Homo sapiens: one gene and its partner. The protein of the gene in region 1 purifies or fractionates together with the protein of each later gene. This does not show direct contact. Each region holds a gene or a part of one and is shown in the gene's direction. Other genes may lie near its edges.

What was found. The genes of interacting proteins can lie anywhere in the genome.
Region 2: the proteins of ANKRD20A1 (region 1) and MTCL3 purify together in Homo sapiens (affinity purification with mass spectrometry; one large-scale study listed by BioGRID and IntAct). This does not show direct contact.

The regions. Positions count from the first base shown.
Region 1 is NC_000009.12:67,896,858-67,899,997, forward strand, and holds part of ANKRD20A1 (ankyrin repeat domain-containing protein 20A1), read left to right. Parts: intron 1-701; coding exon 702-865; intron 866-2,289; coding exon 2,290-2,470; intron 2,471-3,140.
Region 2 is NC_000006.12:127,512,787-127,516,444, reverse strand, and holds part of MTCL3 (microtubule cross-linking factor 3 precursor), read left to right. Parts: coding exon 1-931; intron 932-1,144; exon of another isoform or gene 1,145-1,397; coding exon 1,398-1,622; exon of another isoform or gene 1,623-2,158; intron 2,159-3,395; coding exon 3,396-3,554; intron 3,555-3,658.

The DNA.
Region 1 (3,140 bases):
TAACTGTACCATATGTTTTCCACCTATAAACTTTTGTGGTAATTGAATGTGAAATCTGGGAAGCATCTCATTTTCCAGAATTCTGCACTAGAAACTCAGCAGTTTCACTCTGCTTCTTTTGTTGTGGCAAACGTTGGTTCCCATAATTCAAAGAGAACCTTTACTTTTTTGATATCACAGGATTCAAAAAAAAAAAAAGAGAGATAAAAGGCAGTGGGGAAAAGAGTAGCTCAGTACAGAAAAGGGAAAACTTCTTTACTGTTCCCGAAGGCCTACAAGGTCACATCCTCTTAATCTGGCTATTTCATGTAAAATCCAGGTAGTAAAGACAGAAGACATATATTATGCCTGTGTCTTTTTATTTCTCTGTTTCTGCCAGCCAGATAGCATAAAAATTTATACCAGATAGCAAAGAGTGGATGGGAATAAAAGCACAAAATGGAGAAGAGCCCTTTTTGAAATTTTGGAAAATTCTTCTATTCCCTCAAACAGAAATGAGCAGATTTGACAAAAATTTCGATGATAAAATAAGAGTATCTTATAATTATAATAATTATGTATAATGATAAAATTAAAGTAAGCACAAAATACTTTTATCATTAAAGTGGTGATAGTTAACCTGAATCAAGTAAAAAAAATCAGGGAAAAAGTTCTTTTTATTGAATAAAATAATAACAATTATTATTCATCTTTTATTAAAGGTCAAAGAAGGAAATAATACAAACAAAAGTGAAAAAATACAACTTTCAGAAAATATATGTGATAGTACATCTTCTGCTGCTGCTGGCAGATTAACCCAACAAAGAAAGATTGGGAAAACGTATCCTCAGCAATTTCCCAAGAAGCTGAAGGAAGAGCATGATAGGTAAGCCTATAGCAGTGTTTTTTTTTTTGTTTGTTTGGTTTTGGGTTTTTTTTGTTTGTTTTTGTTTTTTTGAGATGGAGTTTCTCTCTTGTTGCCCAAGCTGGAGTTCAATGGTGTGATCTCAGCTCACTGCAACCTCTGCCTCCTGGGTTCAAGCGATTCTTCTGACTCAGTCTCCCTAGTAGCTGGGATTACAGGCATGTGCCACCATGCCCGGCTAATTTTTTGTATTTTTAGTAAAAATAGGATTTCACCATGTTAGCCAAGCTCGTCTCGAACTCCTGACTTCACGTGTTCTGCCCACCTCGGCCTCCCAAAGTGCTGGGTTTACAGGAGTGAGCCACCGTGCCTGGCCGCCTATAGCAGTATTTCACAGGAGATAATTGTCATTGTGCTATAAACTAATTGAAAATTGGACTAATATTCCTTATGATTAACAAGTTTTATATTTTTACCAGGGGTATTTAGCCCTGCCTGGTAATCAGAAAAAAGCAAATTAACATAAAATAAGATATATTTTGTAAAGTCATGCTGATATTTAAAAAGTAATTATTAGTGTTGGCAAATGTGAGGAAAAAGGCATTCTCATACACTGTTGGTATAGGAAATTAGTAAATTATTTCTGAAGGGTAACTTAGTGCTGTGTATCAAAATTTCAAATAGCCTGACATCCCTTTAACTCAACAACTCCACTTCTGGGACTAGATTTCACAGGAAAACATAACTGGTGTAAACATACACACACTTATTAATATATAATTAACATGCATTAATTATATATTACACATAATGAACAATAGGTTAATGAATATATAAAATATATGTAATAAGGTGAATTGAAAGTATTAAGAAAGAAATATAAAAAGTGTGGGGAAACAGATGTTAGACTTTTTAGCCTAGTTTTGGATGACAGTCATCTGCAGATATAGTTTGTGTGAGAGACATCTGAAGGTGTCATCTCACTCTGTAAATCATTTGGAGAAACACCTGCAATATTTCATAAAGATGAAAATTTATTTCTAGTGAACTTATACGCTTGTCAATAAATAGTAACTTTAAAAATTTAGTTGATTGTAAATGATCTTTTCTAATTAGGGAGTAATTATGACTGTGTGATTTAAAAAGGTAATTTTGAACCTGTAACTTTACTGAATTATCTCTGGTATCCTTTTTTATAATATATATTAGAGTGACTAGTAACAAAAACTTTAGCAGAATATTCTTTCCTTACTACTTTTCAAGTATATGCATTCATTTGAAGATGTTGAAGTGAGAAATTAAATATCTGAGAACTGCAAAGGAAAAATAATCCAGAACATAGAAATTTTATTAGGATAATAAACAACATCTGCAGAGGTAGGTAACAGGATGAACTCCTTATTTTTTAACAAAATGAATTTTAAGACAAATGTCTTTATCTGCAGATGCACCTTAAAACAAGAAAATGAAGAAAAAACAAATGTTAATATGCTGTACAAAAAAAATAGAGAAGAATTAGAAAGGAAAGAGAAACAATATAAGAAAGAAGTTGAAGCAAAACAACTTGAACCAACTGTTCAGTCACTAGAGATGAAATCAAAGACTGCAAGAAATACTCCAAATTGGGTAAATCAATCTTTGGTAAAAATTCTATATTTTAAACTTTATCTTATCACTGTTACTTATAATATCCACTTGATTTAATATATATTGTTTAGGTCTAAAACCATAAATGTTATCTCATTTTTAAAAATGAATGATGACACTTACAGGTACAATTATTAATATTTATTATAAATCTTGGCATCCACATAGGATATTATTTTATTACAAAGAGCTTTTGAAAACAATAATATGCCATAATTTATACTTAGTGATAACCTATTGATAAAAATTTTGTTCCAGGTAAAATTTTTCCTTGTACTTTCCCCTATTTCATATTGATTACTGCACCTAATATTATAAAGAGGAAACAGAAATTATTGCAATCGCAAATAATCTCATGATATTCTAAGAAGAGCTCTATAAATTTTATCTTATTTACTATTGGCGTTTTGAAATAAAAGTTTTCTTTCGTATTGATGTATTTACACCACAGAAGTAACTGTGATCTGTTGGAGAACTAGAAGTAGAGTCAGAAGTCCTGGGGAAAATCCTGTAGCTTGCTTATATTTTTAACATTTCTTTTTCAAAATTATGGTAACTAGATGAGTTCATCAATGAATGTATATAGGAGTGACTAGTATAATGTCTAGTTTATGATTTAGTGAATGTAATTCTTATAACTGACTATAAA
Region 2 (3,658 bases), on another chromosome or scaffold:
CCGGTCCCCAGTGGGGGCCGGCACTAAACTCAATTCTGTTCGGCAGCAGCAGCTGCAGCAGCAGCAACAGCAGGGTAACAAGACCGGGAGCCGCACGGGGCCGCCCGCCAGCATCCGAGGAGGCGGAGGTGGGGCCGAGAAGGCGACGCCCCTGGCGCCCAAAGGGGCCGCTCCGGGAGCTGTCCAGCCTGTGGCTGGTGCTGAAGCGGCCCCCGCCGCGACCCTGGCCGCTTTGGGCGGCAGGAGGCCCGGACCGCCCGAGGAGCCGCCTCGGGAGCTAGAGTCCGTGCCCTCGAAACTCGGGGAACCCCCTCCGCTCGGAGAAGGGGGAGGAGGGGGCGGGGAAGGAGGAGGAGCCGGCGGCGGCTCCGGGGAAAGGGAGGGGGGCGCTCCGCAGCCGCCGCCGCCCAGGGGCTGGCGAGGGAAAGGCGTACGCGCTCAGCAGAGGGGCGGCAGCGGCGGGGAGGGGGCCTCCCCTTCTCCATCCTCCTCTTCTGCGGGCAAAACCCCAGGAACCGGCAGCAGAAACTCCGGAAGCGGCGTTGCGGGGGGCGGCAGCGGTGGTGGAGGGAGCTACTGGAAAGAAGGATGTCTGCAGTCTGAGCTCATCCAGTTCCATCTCAAGAAGGAGCGGGCGGCAGCGGCGGCGGCCGCGGCTCAGATGCACGCTAAGAACGGCGGCGGCAGCAGTAGCCGCAGCTCCCCGGTGTCTGGCCCCCCTGCCGTTTGCGAGACCCTGGCCGTCGCCTCCGCCTCCCCAATGGCGGCGGCGGCGGAGGGCCCCCAGCAGAGCGCAGAGGGCAGCGCGAGCGGCGGGGGCATGCAGGCGGCAGCGCCCCCTTCGTCGCAGCCGCACCCGCAGCAGCTCCAAGAGCAGGAAGAAATGCAAGAGGAGATGGAGAAGCTGCGAGAGGAAAACGAGACTCTCAAGGTGAGGAGGGTGGGGGGACCCGGCTGGGGGATGGGAAGAGTGGGCCTGGGAGGATTAGGGCGTGTACCGGCAGGGATCAGAGGCTGCTAACCTGTTAGGGAGCCTTGAAGAGGGAGGAGAACAAGAAAGGAGGGAGGGGGTTTCCTAGGCCTTGCCGGAATTTGAATCTGCTCTCAGTAACGCGAGGTTTTCATTTAAATTCAAATCTGGGCCTCCGTTTCTCTAATTATAATGGTTTGTCACACTTCTTCCTGGAGAGAGGTAGAGTAAGAGAACGAGAGAGGGCCTAAAGTGGGCCTTTTTCCCCCAGTTTCCTCTTCTGTACTCAGCTCCTTGTCACTCCTGTCTCGTGGAGAGAGAGGGCAATTAAAGCTGAGAATTTGGAATTGGAATGGGGTGTGTACGGTGTGTGTCGGAAGGGCTGGAAGCGAGTTTGATTTTGACACGCGGCCTGTCACCGCCTCAGAACGAGATCGATGAGCTGAGAACCGAGATGGACGAGATGAGGGACACTTTCTTCGAGGAGGATGCCTGTCAACTGCAGGAAATGCGCCACGAGTTGGAGAGAGCCAACAAAAACTGCCGGATCCTGCAGTACCGCCTCCGCAAAGCCGAGCGCAAAAGGCTCCGCTACGCCCAGACCGGGGAAATCGACGGGGAGCTGTTGCGCAGCCTGGAGCAGGACCTCAAGGTCTGCGGCGCGGGGGCTCAATGGCGCGCGGCAGGGGCGGTGGGTGGGGACTTTGGCCAAGGGCTCTTTAGGCTGAGAAGTCTTCAGTGGCGACTGGCAAGGAGCCTTAGGGACACAGTTTCGTAGCGCTAACCACAAAATACTAGGGTCTCAGAAGGGAGAGAACTGGCAGGTGGCTCTAAAGAGTGCAGAGTGTGTGGAGGGCCTGGCAGCAAACGAGCTAAGTGTGCTCTCCTGGGAGCAAAGGTGGCTCTTCAAGAGGTGATGAGAAGAAGGCTCCCTTCTGGGCAGAAGCAAGGGCGTGGCAGAGCGCAGGCTCTAGCCTTTGATCTGCCCTTCAGTCTGTCTACTGAGAGAAGTCCGGTGGAATCGGGCAGTCAGGAGCTGCACTAAAAGGACTCCTCTGGGGGAGTTGAAACCCAAAATAGGAACTGCACTGGGAAGATACTAGAGTTAAGATTTCTTTCAGCAAGTGTCCACTCCACTTCCTTCTTCCAGGACTTCTTCCTTTCTGCACTTGCCACTTAGGTGACTCCCTGAGGGGGAAAAAAAAAACAGATAACCAACTTGCAGCCTGTTTGGTGTGAGGTAAATGAAATAATCTCATTTTTTTAAAGTGCAATTGTTCCTTCAGAATTTCTTCCAGTGGAAAAATCTCAACCTTGAAGTGCATTTTCTAGACAGGTGTGGTCTCCAGTTCAGTTTGACTGTAGGCAGATTCATTGACTATGCAAACTAGACATTAACTTAATCTCCTTGCACAACCAAATAAGTATACGTTCATTGCATTAACTTCATTGGGATTTAAAGATCACGTGTAATCTTTGTTTTAAAGAAAGCTATGTGTAAACATTTTATGAAAGACGTATTACTTTTTTTCTTAACTTTTGTCGAGTGCTTAGTATGTACTAAGCACTGTGGCAAACACTGTTACATACATTATTATTTCATTTAATTCTCAAGGGAAAAAAAATCCTACAATGTAGGGATTATTAAGGCACCATTTTATAGGTGCAGAAGCTACACCTTTTACAGAGGTTAAGTGCCCAGGCCTGGAAAACAGCTAATAGGTGCCAGGCTGACTCTCCACTCAGTCCAAAATCACAACCTGTGTCCTAAGCCTCTACACCAGTCTGCTCCACTTTTCTTCCAAACCCTAGAATTTCCAGGATAATCTCAAAATATGAGGCAAAAATGCACAGTCATTCAAAAAATAATAATCTCAAGGACTAAAACTTTCCTAAGATTAAGCAACTGGAATTCAAGCTATAAGATTGAAATTCAAGCCCAACCCACTACTTGTAAAAACTTCAATTTTTCATTCTTTAACATAGATTATAATGGAAACATCTACCTCATAGTTTTGCTGAAGTAAAGGAAATTTGTGAAATTTCTCTACATGTGATAAAATGCAATAGAACATTTTTTACCACAGAGTAGTGCAGAAGTTAAGGGAACAAAATTTAGAGCCAGATTGCCAGGCCTCTTAGCCCAGCAGTGTCTACTCATTAGCTGTGTGACCTTGACCTCTCTGAGACTCAGTTTCCTCATCTACAAAATAGAAGTAATAATAGTACCTATCCCATGGGATTTTTGTAGGGTTAAACGATTGATATATGTGAATGGCTTATATGTATACTTTGTGGAATAATGCCTGGCACATGGTAAACACCATATAAATATTGGGTTTTAATGCTTTCAATAGGAATACAATTTTAGCCCTTATTATATTGTCATTAATTATATTTTATTGTTACAAACACCTTAATTCAGGTTGCAAAGGATGTATCTGTGAGACTTCACCATGAATTAGAAAATGTGGAAGAAAAGAGAACAACAACAGAAGATGAAAATGAGAAACTGAGGCAACAGCTCATAGAAGTTGAAATTGCAAAGCAAGCTTTACAGAATGAACTGGAAAAAATGAAAGAGGTTAGTATTTGATTATTTCATGGTGTACTATGTATTTTTAGCCCTTTAAAAAAGAATCCCAAGGACTAATATGACTGTTAAAAAATTTCTTTTATGATTGCAGG